Homo sapiens: one gene and its partners. The protein of the gene in region 3 interacts with the protein of the main gene of each other region in a biochemical or structural test. Each region holds a gene or a part of one and is shown on either strand. Other genes may lie near its edges. The genes, in order: CPAP, SASS6 and CEP135.

Region 1 (7,113 bases), on a different chromosome or scaffold from region 3:
TGGGTCCTGGTGTCCTTAAAAGGCCCCTTATCATCACAGACTTGTGGGCTATCCTCTCTGCTGCTGATGCCCCTCTCTCTATCCTCAGTCGATGGTTTTATGGTAACATCAAGCTGTTCCTCAGAGTCAGTGCTACTGTCACTATTTGGAACACCTTCATCGTCACGTGCATTCCATTCAGTCTGATTTTCAGAAGTGCTCTTTTGGACGGCTTTCCTGATTTTACAAGGCTGTTCCCTCAATTCATCAGCTGAGGACAATGAATGAAGTTGTTTGGGTGCGACTTCACACTCACTCTCCTTCTCACGTGCAGTGTGGTCCAAATCCTCACTGCGGTTACAATGACTAATGGGATCTGCCGGATTTGTCTTCTGTGGCACAGCTTTGACAGGGGTGGAAGACATCCGGTGACCTTTGCAGATCTGTTGATCCCTTTCTAAGATTTTCAGTACAAATGAGGAATTACTAGAAAATGATATTTCATCAGCAGCTTGTTCTAAAAACAAAAATTCATCTAATTCCAAATTTTCCTTTTCCTTTTCTCGTTCCCAAGTCTCTAACTTTTTCTGAAGAGAAACGTCAAGAGAAGATTCAGACTCTTTCATGGTCTCCCTTATGGGGCTCTTAGCAGCCAGCCGGCTGGCCGGCCCTGTTGAAAGAGGAAGTCTGTCTTTACCTTGTGTCTTATTCCACCCTGTGCAGCCAGTATCGCAAGGTTTTGGACACTCAGTTACATTTTCTTTATTATTAGATGTGACTTTGTTTTCAAATTTGATCTGGTCTCTAAACTGCCCATCACATTTCTTCCCCGTCTGTATTTTCAATCCTGACGGAGAAAGACTTTTCCTGTTACTACACTTCAGCATTTTCGGCTTCTGACTGAGGGTGACAGAACCACTCTTGGTTCTAGCTTTACTGTCCTTTTTAAGGATAGGGTTGTCTGCACACAGCTCTTTATTTTTAAGAGCGGTTTTCCGCTGGAGTTGCTGTCTATCCATTTTAAACAGCGGCTGGTCCTCGGAAGTGCTCTGGTTAGTCACTAGTTTACTTTCTTTGCCTTTTTGAAACTTAGATTTGGCATTAGTAAATCTAGCTAAACCTTCTCCTCGTTTTAAAAATGGTTGTTTTGGTTTTGCTTTGATTGGCAATGGTCCTTCTGCTTCCTAAAATAAAAGAATAATATTTGAATTAATTTTGGTATATCCAAGTGATCTCAAAGTTATTTTTAAGGCAAATTATAGATAAATCTCTAAAGCCTTAGAATGATTTAATCAGAAGAGCACAATTGCTGACCTTCAGCTGTTTTTGCTTCAGTTCTTGCTCTTCCAACTGAATTTGTTCTTCTAAGTAATCTTCAAAGGTCTGTTTCCTTTCTCCAATAGCAGCTTTAATGGGCCTAATTAGAAACAGAAAGTTATTTAACATGCAAATCATAATGTGTGAATATTTTACACTTAGTGTGCCTGGTATAGAAACCCTTGACAACATGGAGAACTAACTTTTCCCAAAATCAGTGCCTCCCTTTGAGAACCTAACAAAAGCCACAATCCCTCTCCACACCTTAAAATAAAGAAACATACAACACTCTTCACATGACTTTGGAGTCCTAAGAACCCTTCTGAAGTCCATCTATCGACCACAGATTAACACATGGAGTAACATATTCATCAAATAACTTTAAAATGTATTTCAAAAATAGATCACTAAATATGCATTTTTTTAATTAAGAAAGGCCCTTAATGTGAGAACAATAATCAGAAAAGTCATTTTGTCCATATTATATTAAAAATTTTGAAATAAATTTTTAAAATAATCAACTTACTTAAAATATAAAATACTTAATCTTTGCCATATTTTAAAATTCTGTAACTAAACTGATAATGCAATTATAATTGATAAGTGACACCAAATGGGAGATGTCAATACTTAATTTTTCCCTTCTCCAAAAATAGGATTTAACTATTTGAGAGAAAATTGATTTTATCCAGATGTTTCTCTTAAGTGAAAAAGCTTCGAGAATACAATGTCAAGGCAGCTTGACATATCTCCTCAACCTCTTTTGTTGTTGACAGTACATAATAGGTTGTATCTTTAACCTTAAAAGCATAGTCAAGCAAAAACCAGAAAAATATAGATCTTTCAAACAAAGAAAGTGTTCAATAATAAAGGCTAGCTATTGTACTAAATAGTCACATTTCTCACTTTCAACACGAACAATACCTTTCTTCAATATTAGCCACTTCTGAGGAATCATCATGTTTTTGTAAGTTCTTATCATTTGCTTCCTGAATCTGTTCTGTCACTTTCTCCCAACATAAGATACTTTCTCCTGAGATAAAAATTAAGAACAATTTAGCTCAAGAAAAGCATATTAATGTCTTAAAACATGAGAATTCTACAAGTTACTATGCTAAAACATTTTTTTAATTAAAAGTAATGTATATCACAGATTTTACAACACTCAAGGAATTCTTTAATATAATTAAGAGAAACTACAAAACTCCAATTAAGACACTTGAGGCCGGGTGTGGTGGCTCACACCTGTAATCCCAGCACTTTGGGAGGCCAAGGCGGGAGAATCACTTGAGGCCAGGAATTCGAGCCCAGCCTGGCCAACGTGGCGAAACCCCGTCTCTACAAAAAAAAAAAAAAAAAAAAAAAAAAAAATTAGCCAGGCGTGGTGGCACATGCCTGTAATCCCAGCTACCTGGGAGGCTGAGAGCAAGCAGAGGTTGCAGTAAGCCAAGATGGTGCCACTGGACTCCAACCTAAGTGACAGAGGAAGACCCTGTCTCAAAAATAAAATAAAATAAAATAAAGACACTTGACATTCTTCAAAAGGTTAATGTCATGAGGAAAAAAGTGTGGGGTTTTCTAGAGATTAAAAAGGCTAAAGAGTTGTAAGAATCAAACGTAATACATGAACTTGACTGGATATGCATTAATTTGATTGGATCCTTTAAAAAAAAAGCACCTTTAAAAGATATTTTGGGATAACTGGGGGAATCCCAAAATGGACTTGAATATTAAGGAATTATCATTAATTTCTTTAGATACAATAATAGCACTGTGGTTATACAGATGAATGTCCTAATTTTTGCTTGATGCATACTGAAATATTTGGAATGAAGTAACAAGATACCTGCATATTATTTTCAGTGAAATGGTTCAGCAAATTATACACATATAGAAGTAAAGATAAGGATATACATGTAAAAGATATATATACACATACATACACTGACAAAGTAAATACAGCAAAATATTAACTGCTCAATCTAGGTGGTGGGTATATCAGTAATAACTGCAGTGGTCTTTCAACTTTTCTAGATGTTTGAAATTTTCCAAAATAAAAGGCTATGGAAACATGTTGTATAAAAAAGAAGAAAAACATATTTGAGCTTTCCACACCGATGAATTAACTCTAAATTAGGAACAAGGCATTATGGTTGGGTGCAGTAGCTCAGATCTGCAATCCCAGTACTTTGGGAGGCCAAGGCAGGCAGATCACTTGAGGCCAGGAGTTTGAGACTAGCCTGGCCAACATGTTGAAACCCCATCTCTACTAAAAATACACAAAATTATCTGGGCATGGTGGCACATACCTGTAATCCCAGCTACTTGGGAGGCTGAGACACAAGAATCACTTGAACCCGAGAGGCAGAGGTTGCAGTGAGCTGAGATTGTGCCACTGCTCTCCAGCCTGGGTGACAGAGCGAGACTGTCTCAAAAAAAAAAAACACGCCACAGGGGACAAAAAAAAATAACCATACAGAAAGAGCTGGCAGGGTAGCACGTGCCTATAGTCCCAGCTACCTGAGAGGCTGATGGGGGAAGATTACTTGTGCCCAGGAGATTGAGTCCAGCCTGAGCAACACGGCAACACTCCATCTCTGAAAAAATAATTTTTAAAGAAAAAACATGGAAAGGCTTCATCTTAGGACAACTTAGTAACACTATAAGCACAGAAGAGAGAAACATAAGTAGCTCACCTGTAGGATGGTTACGGTTTTCTTCTTTTAAATTATTTTTTTCCACAGGTGCTTCTTGATACTGTGCCTCAGAAAATAAATTAGGAGACGCACGTTTTGAAGTTAAGACAAAATCTCCATGAGCAGTTCTACAGAAGTTGCTTTGCTCATGGGATAAAATGTTGGACGGGTATGTTTCTTCCTGGGTTGGGTCCGGGTAGACATATGATGGGAAGCAGCATGTGGCTCTCTCTCCAGTGGTGGTATTTCCTGGAGACCTGTGCTTCTGGCTCTGATCATCAGGCAGTAAACTCAAACCTTACAATTAAGAAATGCAACAAAGCTGATGACTTCCTTCAACATTTTCTCTTTTATCCCCAGTAGTGACCCCCACCCCACAAAGACTTCTCCACAGTGACAACAGTATTTTTTCCCTTTATTAGGAAATGGTGTTTAACAAAACCATTGATTGTTTGAGACAGTCTCGCTCTGTCGCCAAGGCTGAAGTGCAGTGGTGCGATCTCAGCTCACTGCAACCTCCACCTCTTGGGTTCAAGTGATTCTCGTGCCTCAGCCTCCTGAGTAGCTGGGATTACAGGCGTGTGCCACCACGCCCAGCTAATTTTTTATATTTTTAGAACAGATAGGGTTTCACCATGTTGGCCAGGCTGGTCTTGAACTCCGGACCTCAGGTGATCTGCCGGCCTTGGCCTCCCAAAGTACTGGGATTACAGGTGTGAGCCACTATGTCTAGCCTGTTTAAATTTCTAATGCAGTAAGTTATTGGTAAATACAGCCCATATAACAAAAGTTCTTTGGGGCTCTCAAATATTTAAGAATCCTAAGGGATCCTGAGACCAAAATATTTGAAAACTACTGCTCCAAAGCAAACTGCTCCATGACTGCATGAGGCTAGTTCTTATGTAAATAACTTTGAAATCAGCTTCCCTGTCATTCTGTCATAGTGCGGTTCTACCTTTAAAAGTATCACAGCTGTTATTTAAGTGATCTTGATTATTCTTTGTATGTATTCCATAAAGAAACCCTAAGCCATTCAACTATTTTAAGGCACACAAATGTTTTCTATATTCTCTAAGATAAACATCCAAATTCCCTAAACCATTGTTTATGTGCTACAATTTCTCATGACCACACCCCACCTGACCCCTGCACCCAGCCTCACTCACTTGCCAAGTCTTTTTTTCCTTGTATTCTCAATGCCCAGCATAATCTCTGAGCAGAACAGGTGCTTTCCTGGGTCAGTAAAGTATATTTCTTAAAAGAAGCAAACACATGGCTCCAACCTCAGTTTTTTTCAAACTATGGGACACAATCTATAATAATTTTATTATCGGATGTAGCATTTTTTAAAATGATATAGAACTAGAATAAACAAGACAGAAAATGTCCTCACTACATGCCAGGAACACCAATAAGGACTGATGACATGAAATTGCTTTGTCATTATGAGTCACGATTTTAAACATTTTTACTACTACAGAGTGTGGTCAAGAAACTTTCAAACCACTGCTCCAGGTCACATTTCCAGTTTTCTTTCCTGATTGGCACGTGACGCTTTCCGTTAACTGATGGGTCACACAACAGAATACTGTCATCTCCTACCACAGAAAATATCTTTGGTATGGTTCTTCAGCTGAACAGAGTGGCTCCTACATGTATTTACCTTCATGACACCCAACAGTTTTCATTCATCAGGCAGGGGTTGGATACCAGCAGCAGCTCTAGGCCAAATCTGACTTTTCTTCTATTGGACCTTTTTTGGGGGGACAGGGTCTCACTCTGTTGCCCGGCTGGAATGCAGTGGTGCCATTATAGCTCACTGCTGCAGCCTCAAATTCCTGGGCTCAAGCAATCCTCCCACCTCAGTCTCCAGAGTAGCTAGGACTGCAGGCATGGACCACCACACCCAGCTCATTTTTTTTTTTTTTTTAATGAATAAACATCAATGCCTTAAAGCAGGGCATGCGCACACCAGAATGCGGCAGCTCCTTCTTGTTCCAGTTGTATTACAACTCTACCATTTCACATTTATCGGGCTAGCCTTTAAAGAAACTGGAGTTCACAACACATGATACAGGAACGATAGAAATAACGTGTCAAACAACTACAGGTAAGAAATGTGCATTATACTGAGGCCCTGTGTAGGCAAAGCATACCTGGAAGTGTGCACTGCCCAGACACCATGGTGAGCAGCTTCTCTTGTTCTTCCATGAGTCTCTGTAGTTGCTCCAACTGTTGCCTCTTCAATTGTTCCTGCTTCTTCTGTTGTACTTCTTTCAGCTTTTTAAATACAAAATTAACTTTATTAAATCAACTTTACAATTCTTCATGGACACCTCGTTCCCTTAATTCCTCCCATCTCCCTCCTCCTATCTTTCCTGGTAAGAAGTTTTAGACAGGGACCCCTAGGTAACTAAATCAGCCACCGAAAATCTAAAACTCATATCCTTACGAAGGAAATCTTATCAACTATCTCAACTAAGAAACCGAAACAGTCATATAAATCCTTTGATTGTTAAAATAGGATGGGCATCAGTACATCATCCAATTTTTTCCCCTAATACTTGATCAACCATTTCTTACTTTTCGCCAAATGAGGTAACAACTTAAAGTTATTATAAGTGCTAATTAAACACACTTAAATGTTTCACATTAGACAAAGGGCAAAATCTGGTATTCTGAGGATTTCAGAGTGAAGGGGAAAAAACAAGAAGACCTAGAACAAATGACTTTATTACATAAACAGAAACCTGCAATGACATAAATTCACAGTAGGCCAAATCCTATTGTACCTGTTCAAGTTTTTTAAAAAGTGGGTCTTTATAAGCCCCTTCTTTGAATTCACTCGCAAGATCTGGGATGAAGTCATTTTTGTTTTCTTCCTGGTGTCCAGGAGCACTGTGACATGCCGCTACCTGTGGTCCCTTTTTAATGCAAGGAAAGGCTGTATGGGTTTCAGATTTATCTGACTGTGGTTTGTAAGGGTTGTTTGACTCCAACTTCTGTTCTTCAAGAAGTGAATCTTCTTCATTTATAAAGCTGAAGCTATCAGAAAAATGTGTGCCTTTAATAGGAAAGCTGGTAGAAATGTCCACAGCTGCTCGCTTCTCTTTGTCTGCTT
Region 2 (7,113 bases), on a different chromosome or scaffold from region 3:
CTTATATTATACTCCACAAAATTATATTCCAAGTAGATTAAAAAGCTAAATATAACAAGAAAATTAAACAAATATTAGAATATAGGAGAATTTTTTCATAGTCCTCGGGTGGGAAACACTTTCCAAATGTGAAATGAAATCTTAAGCCATAAAGGCAATGACTGACAGATTTGATGACATTCAAATTAAAAAAACTATATACGGCAAAAGATGCTGGCAAATGACAGGCTGGGAGAAATGTTTATAATGTACATGATAGATAAGGTGTATATCCTTAATTTATACCAATAAAAAGTGAAAAGGCAAGCTATAGACAATGAAAATATTCACAATGCATACATCTGACAAAGGACTCATGTCTAGAATATACAAATTCCTACAAATCTATAATAATACTAATAATAGGCAAATTAAACATGCTAACAACTTGAATGGGCACTTGAAAAGAGAATATTCAAGTGATAAATATGTATATGAAGAAGTGTTCATTATTATCAGATAGTATTACATACCCATAGAATGGCAATGTAAACCGGTATACCTACCTACTTTGGGAAACTGGTAGTTTCTGCCAAAGCTAAACATATGCCTATATATACTACAACCTAGCCATTCCAATAATAGATAAATATCCAAGAAAAATGAGTGCATGTGTCCACAAAAAGATAAGTACAAGAATGTTAATAGCAGTTTAACTAATAATAGCAAAATACCAGAAACAACTCAAATGCCTACCAATAGGAAAATAAATTATGGCAGATTCATATAACAATAAAAGGAAACAATAGAAAATAGGTGAATTTCAGAAATATTATGCTGAGTGAAGAAAGACATATGCAAACATATATGATTCCATTTACACAAAGTTCAAGAATTGGCAAAACTAATGAATGATGATGTAAGTCAGAAGTATGATAACCTCCTATGGACTACTGTTAGGACTAGGAAGCCATACAAGGGAACCTAGAGGGGTGGTCCAATTTCTTTATCTTAATTTGGGTGAAAGTTACACATTTAAAAAAATCATCAAGCTGTACTCTTAAGAGCAAGCATCTAGTAAAGTACATAAAAACAACAATAAAATGTAATATTAAAGAAGCTATAAGGCTGGGCACAGTGGCTCACGCCTGTAATCCTAGCACTTTGGGAGGCTGAGGAGGGCAGATCACCTAAGGTCAGGAGTTCGAGACCATCCTGGCCAACATGGTGAAACCCCGTCTTCACTAAAAATACAAAATTTAGCCGGGCATGGTGGCACATGTGTAATTCCAGCTACTTGGGAGGCTGAGGTAGGAGAATTGCTTGAACCTGGGAGGCAAAGGTTGCAATGAGCCAAATCATGCCATTGCACTCCAGCCTGGGCAACAAGAGCGAAATTCTGTCTCAAAAAAAAAAAAAAAGAAGCTATAGTACGAAAGGTAGAAAAGGAATTCATACTACAAAGCAGTAGAAAATAACAACCACAGCTGGGCATGGTGGCTCATGCCTGTAATCCCAGCACTTTGGGAGGCCAAGGTGGGTGGACCACGAGGTCAGGAGTTCAAGACCAGCCTGACCAACAGGGTTAAACTCATCTCTACTAAAAATACTAAAATTAGCCAGGCATGGTGGTGGCATGCGCCTGTAATCCCAATTACTTAGGAGGCTGAGGCAGGAGAATTGCTTGAACCCAGGAGACAGAGGTTGCAGTGAGCCGAGATAGTGCCACTGCACTCCAGTCTGAGCGACAGAGCGAGACTCCATCTAAAAATAAAAAATGAAAAAAAAAACAACCACACAGAAAAAGGGATGAAAAGACAATAAAAAATAATCCACAGAAGAAATGAAATGATAAAAAGTTATATTAAAAGATGCTTATCTTCACAAAACATATAAGAAATATAAACTAAAACTAGTACTAAGATCAGGTGGCAAATATTAAGAATTAAGAAGGTGGCAGGGCACAGTGAAAAAAAAAAAATAACCACACAGAAAAAGGGATGAAAAGAAAATAAAAAATAATCCATAGAAGAAATAAAAATGATAAAAAGTTGTATTAAAAGATGCTTATCTTCACAAAAAATACAAGAAATATAAAATAAAACTAGTACTACCTTAAGATCAGGTGGCATATATTAAGAATTAAGAACGTGGCAGGGCACAGTGGCTCATGCCTGTAATCCCAGCACTTTGGGAGGCCAAGGCAGATCACCTAAGGTTGGGAGTTCAAGACCAGCCTGACCGACATGGAGAAACCCCATCTCTACTAAAAATACAAAATTAGCTGGGCATGGTGGCACATGCCTGTAATCCCAGCTACTTGGGAGGCTGAGGCAGGAGAATTGCTTGAACCCGGGAGGCAGAGGTTACAGTGAGCCGAGATTGTGCCACCGCACTCCAGCCTGGGCAACAAAAGCAAAACTTTGTCTCAAAAAAAAAAAAGAAGAATTAAGAAGGTTAAAAACAATGTCAAGAATATGGGGAAATAAGTATCCTTATACACTACCTTATCTTTGGGATTCCATTTGGTTTAGTCTTTTTGGGTGGCAAATTTGCAGTATCCATCAATATTTTATACAGATATGTTGCAGTTTCACTTCTAGAAACTAAGAGTGCTTCTTGCAGTATTGCTTAAAATAACCAAAACTTCGAAGCATTTAAATGACCACCATTTAGGCAAGTAGTTAAATAATTTAAGTTAAACCCAAAAAATGAATACTCTGCAGTCACTAAAAAGGAATATCTTAACTGATACAGAATGGTATCACATTAAGCGAAGAAAGTTACAATCAATATATCCAATAAGACCCCATTAGTATAGAACAAAACCAAAAACCCATTATATGGGTACATATATAAATGACATAATTTACAGAGTTATAAGTTTATAAACAAATATTTATAAATTACATATTATTTACATATACGTAGAGAAAAGTCTGAAAAAAATACATCAAAATGTTTATAGATTATCTCTAGGTAGTAAGACTTTGAAAGAGAGGATTTTTATTTTTATTTTATATACTTCTGTAACGTTTGGAAAATTTAAAGCAAGCATATATTACTTTTAAAATTAACAAAATGACTAACAGCAATAAAAGATATTTTTTCAGTTTCCTTTAATGTTCTTACCTGCAAGGCTTTTTCCTTTTCATTTGTCAGTTCCTGAGAATGCTTGTTTGTCAAGGCTGCTGTATGTGACGCCCATTCATTCCGTAACTTATCTAATTCTTGTTTTTTTTCTGCTAATGTCTACATTAGAGTTTAACACAAAATATTAAGATAGGCTCCTTAATATGTAATAATTTTGATTAGAATATAGCAATATTTACAAGGATATTAAAGAAAACAAAATTATAGCTTTTCAGGACATGTTCAAAGCCTTTTCCTACACAAAATTTTTTAATTTTAGGAAATCAACATTAGAATAAGAACAATCTTAGACCCAAAACGGCCCACAGGTCAAGATTAACTATCTTTTAATTAAAGCTTTTAATTAAATCTGGCTCTTTACCACCCAATAAAGAGGGGTAAGGGGAAGCAAGTCGATTATAAGGAATAGTTCACTTACATATAAAACCCAGTAACATGGCCCTGTGGGCCACATTGTGCAGGGGTATTTTCTGCATGAGGCCATGCAGATTATCAGATACCGATATAGTTAGGATGTCTGTCCCCTCCAAGTCTCATGTTCAAATGTAATCCCCAACAGAGGAGGCAGGGCCTGTGGTAGGTGATTGGATCATGGGAATGGTTTAGTGCCATTCCCTTGGTGTTAAGCAAGTTCTCATTCAGTTAGTTCATATGAGATCTGGATGTTTAAAAGCATGTGGTACCTCCTTCCTCCCACCCTCACCATGTGACACTCCTGCTCCCCTTTGCCTTCAGCCATGACTGTAAACTTCCTCAGGTCCCCACTAGAAGCCAAGCAGATGTTGGTGCCATGCTTGTACAGCCTACAGAACAATGAACCAATTAAATCTCTTTTCTTTATAAATTACCCAGCTTCAGATAGTTCTTTAAAGCAAAGCAAGAACAAGCTAAAACAGATACTCTGGCCTTCAATTTCATGAACTAGGGCAGAAATGTTGTAGCTATGACTGAAATGATGCTAAGCCTATCAGAGGAATTAATTCTAAACATAGCAAAGAAAGGGAAAGGTTTAGAGCATAGGAACTGAAAAGCCATTTAGGCCAGAGGAATGAGGCGAACAAGTGGGGAGTGGAGAACTAATATATGACAGAAACATACATATCTTATTTAATGAAGACTCGAGGGAACATGTTATATATTGGGGATACAGAAATGTTTGTGTAAAATCAAGTATGTACAAGAGAAAGTATCAAATTAAGATAATTAAGTGGTAGTTGAAGGGTGGCAAAGAGGAATGGAAATTCAACGGAAGCATGCTTTGAAAGAAAATACATAAAAGCTTGGAACTGAGTCAAGGAAGCAATTCAGTGCCAATGTCTGGATGACTTACAAAGACAAAATGAAATTTGAATTACCTTTCGTGTAAAGTCCAGTTGCTTAGTAGCATCATCTAGTGATTGCATCAATGATAATTTTTCTTCCTATTCATAAAAATAATAAAATTACACAGTTTACAATGTAATCATCTATAGCCATGCTACTCAAAGTATAGCATCAGCATCATCCTGGAAGCCTGTTAGAAATGCAGATTCTTAGGCTCCATCTCAAATCTAAATCATTTTAACAAGATCCCCAGATAATTTAAAGTTTGACATGCACTGATCTATAGCATTTGACTAGAAAGACTCTAAAAACTCAAGCAGCATCCCTATGTTGTTTCCTTGTGCCATATAGCACTTTATAATTTTCAAGACATTTCCATATATCTTATCTCATTAAAGATGGGCTAGGGCCGGGCGCGGTGGCTCACGCCTGTAGTCCCAGCACTTTGGGAGGCCGAGGCGGGCGGATCACGAGGTCAGGAGATTGAGACCATCCTGGCTAAAACGGTGAAACCCCGTCTCTACTAAAAATACAAAAAATTAGCCGGGCGTAGTGGCGGGCGCCTGTAGTCCCAGCTAGTTGGGAGGCTGAGGCAGGAGAATGGCGTGAACCCGGGAGGCGGAGCTTGCAGTGAGCCGAGATCCCGCCACTGCACTCCAGCCTGGGCGACAGAGCGAGACTCCGTCTCAAAAAAAAAAAAAAAAAAAAAGATGGGCTAGATAGGGTAGCTATTTCCATACATGTCTACCAGTTGATGAAACCATGACAGAAGAGTTTAAGTGACCTGTCCAAAATCACACGATTGGTAAAAACCCTGAGACCTAAGCTTCTCAATTCCTGGTCCAGATCCATCCCGACTATACCTTGACTAAATAAGAAACAGTAAAATAAATTCGTTATATTTCATAAAACTTTATTTAGAAAACAAAAACTTATGGCAATGTATCTCTTCAATAATTTATCAAAGACCATTGATACTTATTTTGTTAAAAGAATAACTTAAATTTAAATCTTACCTTGCTACATTTCAAACAGCCTGCGAGAAATTTCTTTATCTCCACATCATTTCCAGGTAAAAGTTTTAGTGAGAGGTGTGTAAGATGCTTAAAAGGATTTGTCTCTACCACATTTAAAAATGCAGGTGAGTTATCCAAAATAGCTGCTGGAGAAACTAACTGTAGCAAAAACCTTTGAAAAGAAAATGTTACATTATAACACACTTAAGAGATAGTGAAAATCTCTCACTGAATCAGAAGCTTCTCTACTTAAGAAAGCTCAGGAAAGGGAGCACATTGAGGACTCCCAATGGTAAAAGATAAATTGGGCAAAAAAAAGAAAAGATTGACTGAAACACAGTGACTACATAAAAGTCCATGAGTTCATGAGAAACAAATGAGAGAAAAAGCAAAAACTAGAAACAAAAATTCACTGAGTGCCACAAAAGTAGACTACCAGCTCTTTACTCTAAAAATTGACAATTTAAATGCAAGAATTAAGCATTTATCCTTTATGAATTTTCTGAGTAATCAAATAGCCCTAATTGCTGAGGAAAAGTTCTTCTTTATAGAAGAATTATACTTAATATAGAAAAAATTATACAGAAGCATCATTTTGTTCTTCCTAATGAAATAACTGATTCAACAACAATCGTCAACTGATAAAACCAATAAATAAAAGGTTGATGGTGAACTTTACAGTAAAAGAATCAGGCGTTAGCACCATACACACATACAATCTTAGTCTTCCCTTTTTCCAATATCATTATAAAACCAAATATTTGATGCTGCTAAATATTTCGGATGACTTTAGTGCCTTTGTCAAGACATGAAAATTAAGAAATATTTCTGATTTTAATCAAGATGCCTTAAAGTCTGAGATTTAATGGAGGCCTAACCCCAGTTCTAAAAATAAACAGGGATAGTCATAATAAACGGAAAAGATTTTGCCATCAACTTGTGTTTCAAAGAAGAGTCTGTCTTGAATTAAATTTAATAATGTAGCATTCTCATGCAACTTACCTTGGAATTTCTTTGGCATGTTCTTGAGTACATTGCTGAAGGAGATCTATAAATTTTTGTGGGAAAGCTAAGAAGTCTACCAGAAGACCTTGCTGGAATTTTAAACTATACAGAAGAAAGGAAAAGAAATTTTTTAAAAATTTTAATTAACTTTGTTTTGTTTTGGTGCCTTTTTTTTTTTTTTTTTTTTTGAGATAGAGGCTCACTCCATCACCCAGGCTGGAGTGCAGTGGTGCAATCTTGGCTCACTGCAACCTCTGCCTCCCAGGTTCAAGAGATTCTCCTTCCTCAGCCTCCTGAGTAGCTGGGATTACAGGCACATGCCACCATACCTGGCTAATTTTTGTATTTTTAGTTAAGACAGGGTTTCACCATGTTGGTCAGACTAGTCTCGAACTTCTGACCTCATGATCCGCCCTCTTCGGCCGCCCAAAGTGCTGGGATTACAGGCGTGAGCCACCGTGCCTGGCCAATTACTATCTTTAATTATAATTAGCATCCTGAAGGATTCTTTTTTCAAATTTACTAACGCTTGTTATAATCAAGAACTAAGCTAAGGAACTCTGATTTTTATAGAACGTATTCAATGGGAAAAAAAATCAATAAATTCAGCAAAAGCTTCAAACTTCACAGGTGTTTT
Region 3 (6,997 bases):
ACCCTCAGTTCCTGCCACCTCTCTGAGAGGTAGCAGGACAGGTGGTGTCATTGAATATGGTGTTCCTAAGCTAGTATGGGGAGGGATCGCTAGGACCCGTGACTCTTGTCCTTCTTTTGAAGCTTCAAGTGCACTTGGACCTGGATTATAGGAAGGTGGCTATTGTTCACCCTGACACATATGTACCCCTTGCAAGAGGGGGTTATCTACAGTATTCGGCTCAGTTTTAGGAGTTTCTTTCTGTGGAGAAGTGCTGGGAGCTTTGAAAATGGTAGGCTTTTGGTATAGGGCCATGAAGGCTTGCACATATGGTATTTCTGACCATTTGCCTTGTCTCTTACAAAATAGTTCTAATTGGAGGATGGTGTCATAATTGAGACTTCCATTGACTGGCCATTGCTCTTGACTCCCTAGCTGAAATTGAGGCCAAAAGGTGTTACAATAAAATATTAGGCATTTCTTTCACAGGTTTTCAGGGTCAAATTGATTCCAATGATTGAAGATGCAGCCAAGAGGGGAGTCAGATAGGACTGAAGGAATGTTTCCCAACACTAATCTGTGGAAAAGAAGAAGGGAGTTGTCAGGCCTCTGAGCCCAAGCCAAGCCATTGAATCCCCTGTGACTTGCACATATATGCCCAGATGGCCCAAAGTAACTGAAGAATCACAAAAGAAGTGAAAATACCCTGCCCCGCCTTAACTGATGACATTCCACCACAAAAGAAGTGAAAATGGCCAGTCCTTGTCTTAAGTGATGACATTACCTTGTGAAAGTCCTTTTCCTGGCTCATCCTGGCTCAAAAAGCTCCCCCACTGAGCACCTTGCGACCCCCACTCCTGCCCACCACAGAATAACCCCTTTGACTGTAATTTTCCTTTACCTACCCAAATCCTATAAAACTGCCCCACCCCTATCTCCTTTCGCTGACTCTCTTTTCAGACTCAGCCTGCCTGCACCCAGGTGAAATAAACAGCCTTATTGCTCACACAAAACCTGTTTGGTGGTCTCTTCACATGGACGCGCATGAAAGGAGTCTCATAGGTTCATGAGTTTACATCTAGAGTCTCCCTTAAGGGTGTCCCCTATTGAAGGATCTGGACTGTAATTTTGGTCCATTTGGGCATCCCCCAAATGGACCTGTCCTCTGAGTGCCAGACGTCTCTAGCCATAGTGGGCACCAGTGCCATTTGAAGAAGGATCCTGCCATAATTGGTGACCTATGATAAGTTTCCCTTTAGTTCCTGGGTGTAACCTTTGGCTTCTAGTATCCCTGTAGCTGGCCAAAAGAGTTTCTTCCCAAATGGTTTCCTTAATTATTGTAGTAACTCTAGTTTGAAGGGCAAGGAATTGCAGACTGCCTAGTTTAAATTTGTTATTAGAGACTGGCCTCTCAATAAGATAGTAGAGTGCCCTCTGACTATATGAGATAAACCAGGCACAGTAATTTCCCCATGGATCCACTGTGCAATTTATGCAATGATCCGAGAGTCTCCACCAGGAGTTTTCTTTTAGCACCAGATGTACTAAACTAAAACAATCTAGATCTGATCCCTCACAGAAGAAGCAGGGTACTCTCATTATCCAGGTGGTTGGCCCTAATCTTCAGGCTGATGCTAATCCTTGGGCTCCCCACAGTCAGTTACCTGTTGTCCTGGCCCTTTGGGTTGGGGGGAGATCTCTAATTGGTCAAAACATGATATCCCAACACAAATGAAGAAAAGAAAAAAAAAATAAAACAAGCAGCAAGGCTGGGCACGGTGGCTGGCTGGGCATGGTGGCTCATGCCTGTAATACCAGGACTTCGGGAGGCCGAGGTGGGCGGATCACCTGAGGTCAGGAGTTCGAGACCACCCTGGCCAACATGGTGAAACTCTGTCTCTACTAAAAATACAAAAATTAGCCGGGCATGGTGGTGGGTGCCTGTAATCCCAGCTACTCAGGAGGCTGAGGCAGGAGAATTGCTTGATCCCGGGAGGTGAAGGTTGCAGTGAGCCGAGATCATGCCACTGCACTCCAGCCTGGGTGACAGAGCAAGACTCCATCTCAAAACAAAAACAAAAACAAAAACAAAAACAAAAACAAAAAAACAAGCAGCAAATAATGTAATAATTATAGCCACACAAACATGCACCTCACTGTTGCAGGGATTGATCTTGTACCCCGTGGGACCCATCTGTTCCATTCCCCAATCAGGTTATCCTGTCACGTTGAGGCAGGAATTTAAAGAAAGTTTTGTACTGCATTTACTCACTCTAAGGATAGTAACAAGCAAGGCTATAGGAAGGTCATGGTGACCTAGTCTAAGAAGCCAGGAATGAGCTCCAAACACCCCTGAGCAATGGTTAAGAAAAACAAATTCCTTTACTGTTTCTCTTTCCTTAGACCATTAATTATGATTATTTTTGCCTATGTTTAGAAAGATTTGTAGGTTCCTGTTTTTCTTTTGACGCAGCTGCAAGGCCACCAGCTAAGCAAAGCCAAAAGTTATGCAAATTTCAGCAGTTATGCTATAGATTACAAAACCTGTCACTGTGTGATTTACTGCCTTGGTTCTGCTTTTTTAATTTAGCCTATATAAGCCAAGCTCTGTCTTTGTTCAGGGCTCAGCTTTTTGGATGCAAATCCACGGAGCCAGTGCACACCTTAATAAAATCCTCCTGCTCCACCCATTGGTCTTTCTGGTCCTCTGCTTTCCCGCAACAATGGGAGTCTTCAAGCGGCCAGTGCCTTTTTCGTTCTTAACTGCCCAATCCGTGCCAGCAGAAGGCAGCTTTAAACCAAAGTGAAAGAGCTGAAGCAAAAAAGAAAGAAAATAAAAAGTCCCAGTTCTTCTGGGCTTACCTCCTGGCTGGCTCACCAAAATATGTTACCAGATTGGAAGTTGGGAGTTCCAGGTTCTTGGTGTTATGAACAAAGAATTGGATGAGACACACAAATAACCACCCCACAAGATTTATTAAGCAAAGAATATACCAGAGAGAGGAACGGGCTTATCTTCAAGTGGTGTCAGCCCTGGATTAATATAGCCTTTGTTCTTTTATACCCACTTCCTACACTTCTTTAACTCTAGGGAGGGGATTTCCTATAATTGTCATATCTGTTTTCTTGTTTTTTCTCTCTTAGTGCGCCTGCGTGAGCTTGCCATAATTTTAAGTGTATGTATGATAGGCATTCCATAGGTATGAGCTGGTCAGTCTTCTGACTTCCTTCCCTATTCTGCTGCCTCAGAAGGCCTATTTGGGAGAAAAGTAAACAGGAAAGAATGAAACTCCCTCTGACTGTCTGGGAAATTTTCAGGGGAGAAATGGAATTCTAGGATTTTACTATGTGTTTTCCATCTGTGAGTGGACTATAACGGTTTATTTCAATTTAATTCCACTCACAAATGTTTTGCTGAGTAGAATAGTCTCTGACTCAAGGAATTCACATTTGGGGGCGGCAGAGAGAGACGGATCAACAAATGATTGTATTTTGATGGATGAATTCTATGGTTCTACAGAGAGCCTGCGGGAGATACTATTGTGGGATAATTAATTGCATTGGGTGGTTGTCAGGGAAAGTTGCAGAGACAACGTGATATCTGCGTTTGGGGATTACGTGGTGAGCAGGCGTTCACCTTGCAGGTGAAGGCTACTCCGCTGCAGGGACCGGTACTGGGGCGGCGTTTGTTCCCCGCACGCAGTAGGTGATCCACACCTCCCGCCGACAGGAGGAAGAGGATGCCAGCTCAGGCACCAGCTGAGGTTTGGCATTTGCTGGCCGCGGGCGCCGACCTCCAGGGGGCGCCGTGGCCTCGCGCTGTCCGGGCCGTTGCATTTCCGGGCACTGGGGCTCCGCCATCGTCGCCAAGCGCGTCCCCGCCGCGAGCCGCTAATCGTCCGCCGCTCCCGTTACCGGGGCAACCGCGGCGCCTCCTCCGTGTCGGCCCCGATCGTCCCTCCGCGCCATTTTCAAACTGCTCTAGCGCCGGAGCCCGTGCCTGGACGGAAGGAGCTAGTGGGGGACTCGAGGCCTGAGGGCAATGCGGCTGGAGGCGGAGGCAACGGCGGCTGGAGCTGCCGGTGAGTCCGGATGTGGGAGCCAGAGGGCCAGCTGCGGCGGTGGTGGCGCCTTCGCCTTCTGGGCGGTACCCGCGGGCCGGGCTCGGGCACTGCCGGGAGGCCGCGCGGCCGCGGGAGGAAGTGAGGCCAGGCCGGGTCAGACCGGGCGGGGAGGGGCGCGGGGACTCTTCCCACCCACCCCGCTCCCACACCCCCTTCCCGTCAACACCCGACGGTAAAGTTGCAAACCGGAGATTGGGTGGAGGAGAGCTTGGGCCGACTCGTCAAGGAGCGTCTGTGTGGGCCGTGCAGACAGGCTTGCTGTTGACCAATGGATAGATTTAAACATTAAAATGCCTTCTCAGTGTAGCAGTCATCCATGCTCTTTGTAACAAAAATGTCGCAAAGCGTAGGACGACAGCCTTTAATTAACCTTTGCCCAGCTCCTTTGAAGCCTCTCCACTGCTTTCCAGCCTTTACTACTTTGAGTTCAATAAGAAAGGACTCTGAGATAACCACAGCTAACGGGTTTCTTTGTTGTCGTTTGGGGTTTCTTGTTTATCTTCTTAAGCCCTGTGCACACATACATACAGCATTAAATGTACTGGTTTTGAGACGCCAACCCCCAGAGTTAAGTAGATGGATACTTCTACACATATATGTATGGGGGACCCCCAAACCTAACCTTTTATGTTGCTTTGCTAGAAACTTAGAGTATAGCCACCATATTTGGATGGGGGTTATGGGGAAAGACAACAGTTCATGGGTGGGGACGGCCTAACATGTTTCTATCTGGGAGGATTTTAATCCGTCCTGTGTATTGAGGCCCTGGCCATGATTTATTGATTCATATTCATTCTCATTCTCTCCCCTCCAAAGCAGGATGTGAGGAGGTATTATCTCTGGGTAACTGGAGTTGGTAGCAAAGAGGGGAAATGTTTTGAGTGGTGCACCGCCTGTAAGTTTACACCCTGCTAGTAATACACCTGGATTTGTCAGGTGTATTTCTGATGTCTGCAGGAATTTCCCTAAAAACCCTGCATCACTTAGGTGTCTCTTGTGGAAAGAACCTAGGAAATCTATGAGGAAGCCATTCAAAAAAAGTTAACAAGAGCAAAGAGAAAGATATACAGAAAGGAGTGACCAAGGAGAGACTCAGGAGACCTGGTCTCTGATGACTGCCCACCTACTTTGTGGCCCCGTGGTTTTGGAAGAGTTACTTTCTTGAGGCAGCCTTTCCTCATGTTTAAGTAGGGATAATATCATTGGTCTTTCTCCCTCACAGGGTAGCTGTGAGGATCGACTTTTACATGTATGCTCATGCATGTAATGCATTTTTTATATATTGTGAAGAACAACAGATGTAAAACAAAATTTTTATTTGGCTTAGAAATACGAGTACCATGACTACAGTTAGTTAGCAAAGGTTAGAAAAGAGCAGAGTTTCTAAAGAAATGATCTTTGGGCTGAGCATATTGGCTCACACCTGTAAACCTAGCACTTTGGGAGGTAGAGGTGGGAGAATACCTTGAGCTCAGGAGTTGGAGACCAGCCTGGGCCACATAGCAAGACCCTGTCTCTAAAAAAGGTAACAATTAAAATAAAAAAAAAAAAGAAATGCTCTTTGGATAACTCCATTTTAGGGCAGATTGATAGGAATATATTCATAAATATTTAAAAAGACAAAGATAAAAACTTGAACAGAGGTACTTATGTGTGTCTTTTTTTTTAATTGAAGTGAAATTTACATGATGAAATGCATAGAGTTTAAGTGTACTATTTGAAAAGTAAATTCTCTAAATGTATACACTTGTGTAACCACTACCCCAATCAATGTAATATTTTCATTACCCTAAAAAGTTGTGTCTTAACTCTTAACGGGCAATCTGCAGCCCGCCTCACCTCCCCAGACAACTCTTGTTTTAATTTCTGGCCCCATAGTTTTAATTTTACTTGTTCATCAACTTCATGTAAATGGAGTCATACAGTATTTGTCTGGTTTCTTTTGCTCAAATAATGTTTTTGAGATTCATCCATGCTGTTGATGTGTATCAGTAGTTCCTTTTATCCCTTAGTATTGCACTGTATAAATATATCATACTTTACCCCTTCTGCTGTTGATGGGGGTTTAGGTTGTTTCCAGTTTGGGGCTACTATGAGTAAAGCTGTGAACATTCTTGTAGAGTATTTTTGTGAATATTTTTTATTTCTATAAATACCTGGGAATAAAATCACAGGGTTATAGTCCAGAAGTATGTTTAACTTTATAAAAAAACTGCCAGACTTTTTCCAAAGTGATTTTACATTCCTGTCAGCAATGTGTGAAGATTCCAGTTGCTCCAGATCTTTGTCGACATTTGCTATTGTCGGTCCTTGTAATTTTAGTCATTCTAGTTTGGGAGAAAATGTACCTTGTTGTTTTAATTTGTATTTCCATGTTGACTACTGTTGAGCACCATTTCATATCATCATTCCCATTCAGACACCTATGCGAGGTGTCTGTTCGAATCTTTAGCGCAACTAAATTACAGTTTTAGCCCAAATTAATGTTCTTATTGGGATGTTTGTCTTATTATTGAGTTGTAAGAATTCCTTTTATATTCCCTATACAAATCCTTTGTCAGATATTGTGAATATTTTCTCCCACTCTTTGGTTTGCCTTCTCTATTTTAATTGAGTATTTTGATGAGCAGACATTTTAAATTTTGATGAAGTCCAATTTATCAAATTTATCTTTTATGTTTAGTGCTTTTAAAAGAGGCCTCTCTGAGAAGTCTCTGCCTACTTCAGGCTTAGGAAAAATCTTTGTTTTCTCCTAGAAGCTTTAGGATTTTAACTTTTACATTTAGTTGTATGAGGAAGTATTTATTTTAATGCAGTAACAGGAATATCATAAGCATTGGCTTTAAATCTGAATTTTCCAGAAGGCTACCTACCTGAAGAAAAACAAAAAATAA

Evidence for each region.
Region 1: the proteins of CEP135 (region 3) and CPAP form a complex in vitro, tested with the Homo sapiens proteins (one study listed by IntAct).
Region 2: the proteins of CEP135 (region 3) and SASS6 form a complex in vitro, tested with the Homo sapiens proteins (one study listed by IntAct).

What each region holds. Positions count from the first base shown.
Region 1 is NC_000013.11:24,905,798-24,912,910, forward strand, and holds part of CPAP (centrosomal P4.1-associated protein), read right to left. Parts: coding exon 6,785-7,113; intron 6,273-6,784; coding exon 6,149-6,272; intron 4,290-6,148; coding exon 3,993-4,289; intron 2,330-3,992; coding exon 2,221-2,329; intron 1,397-2,220; coding exon 1,294-1,396; intron 1,164-1,293; coding exon 1-1,163. UniProt on the Homo sapiens protein: Plays an important role in cell division and centrosome function by participating in centriole duplication. Inhibits microtubule nucleation from the centrosome. Involved in the regulation of slow processive growth of centriolar microtubules.
Region 2 is NC_000001.11:100,115,907-100,123,019, forward strand, and holds part of SASS6 (spindle assembly abnormal protein 6 homolog), read right to left. Parts: intron 6,579-7,113; coding exon 6,474-6,578; intron 5,644-6,473; coding exon 5,472-5,643; intron 4,554-5,471; coding exon 4,488-4,553; intron 3,232-4,487; coding exon 3,112-3,231; intron 1-3,111.
Region 3 is NC_000004.12:55,944,999-55,951,995, forward strand, and holds the start of CEP135 (centrosomal protein of 135 kDa), read left to right. Parts: upstream 1-3,946; 5' UTR 3,947-4,061; intron 4,062-6,997. UniProt on the Homo sapiens protein: Centrosomal microtubule-binding protein involved in centriole biogenesis. Acts as a scaffolding protein during early centriole biogenesis.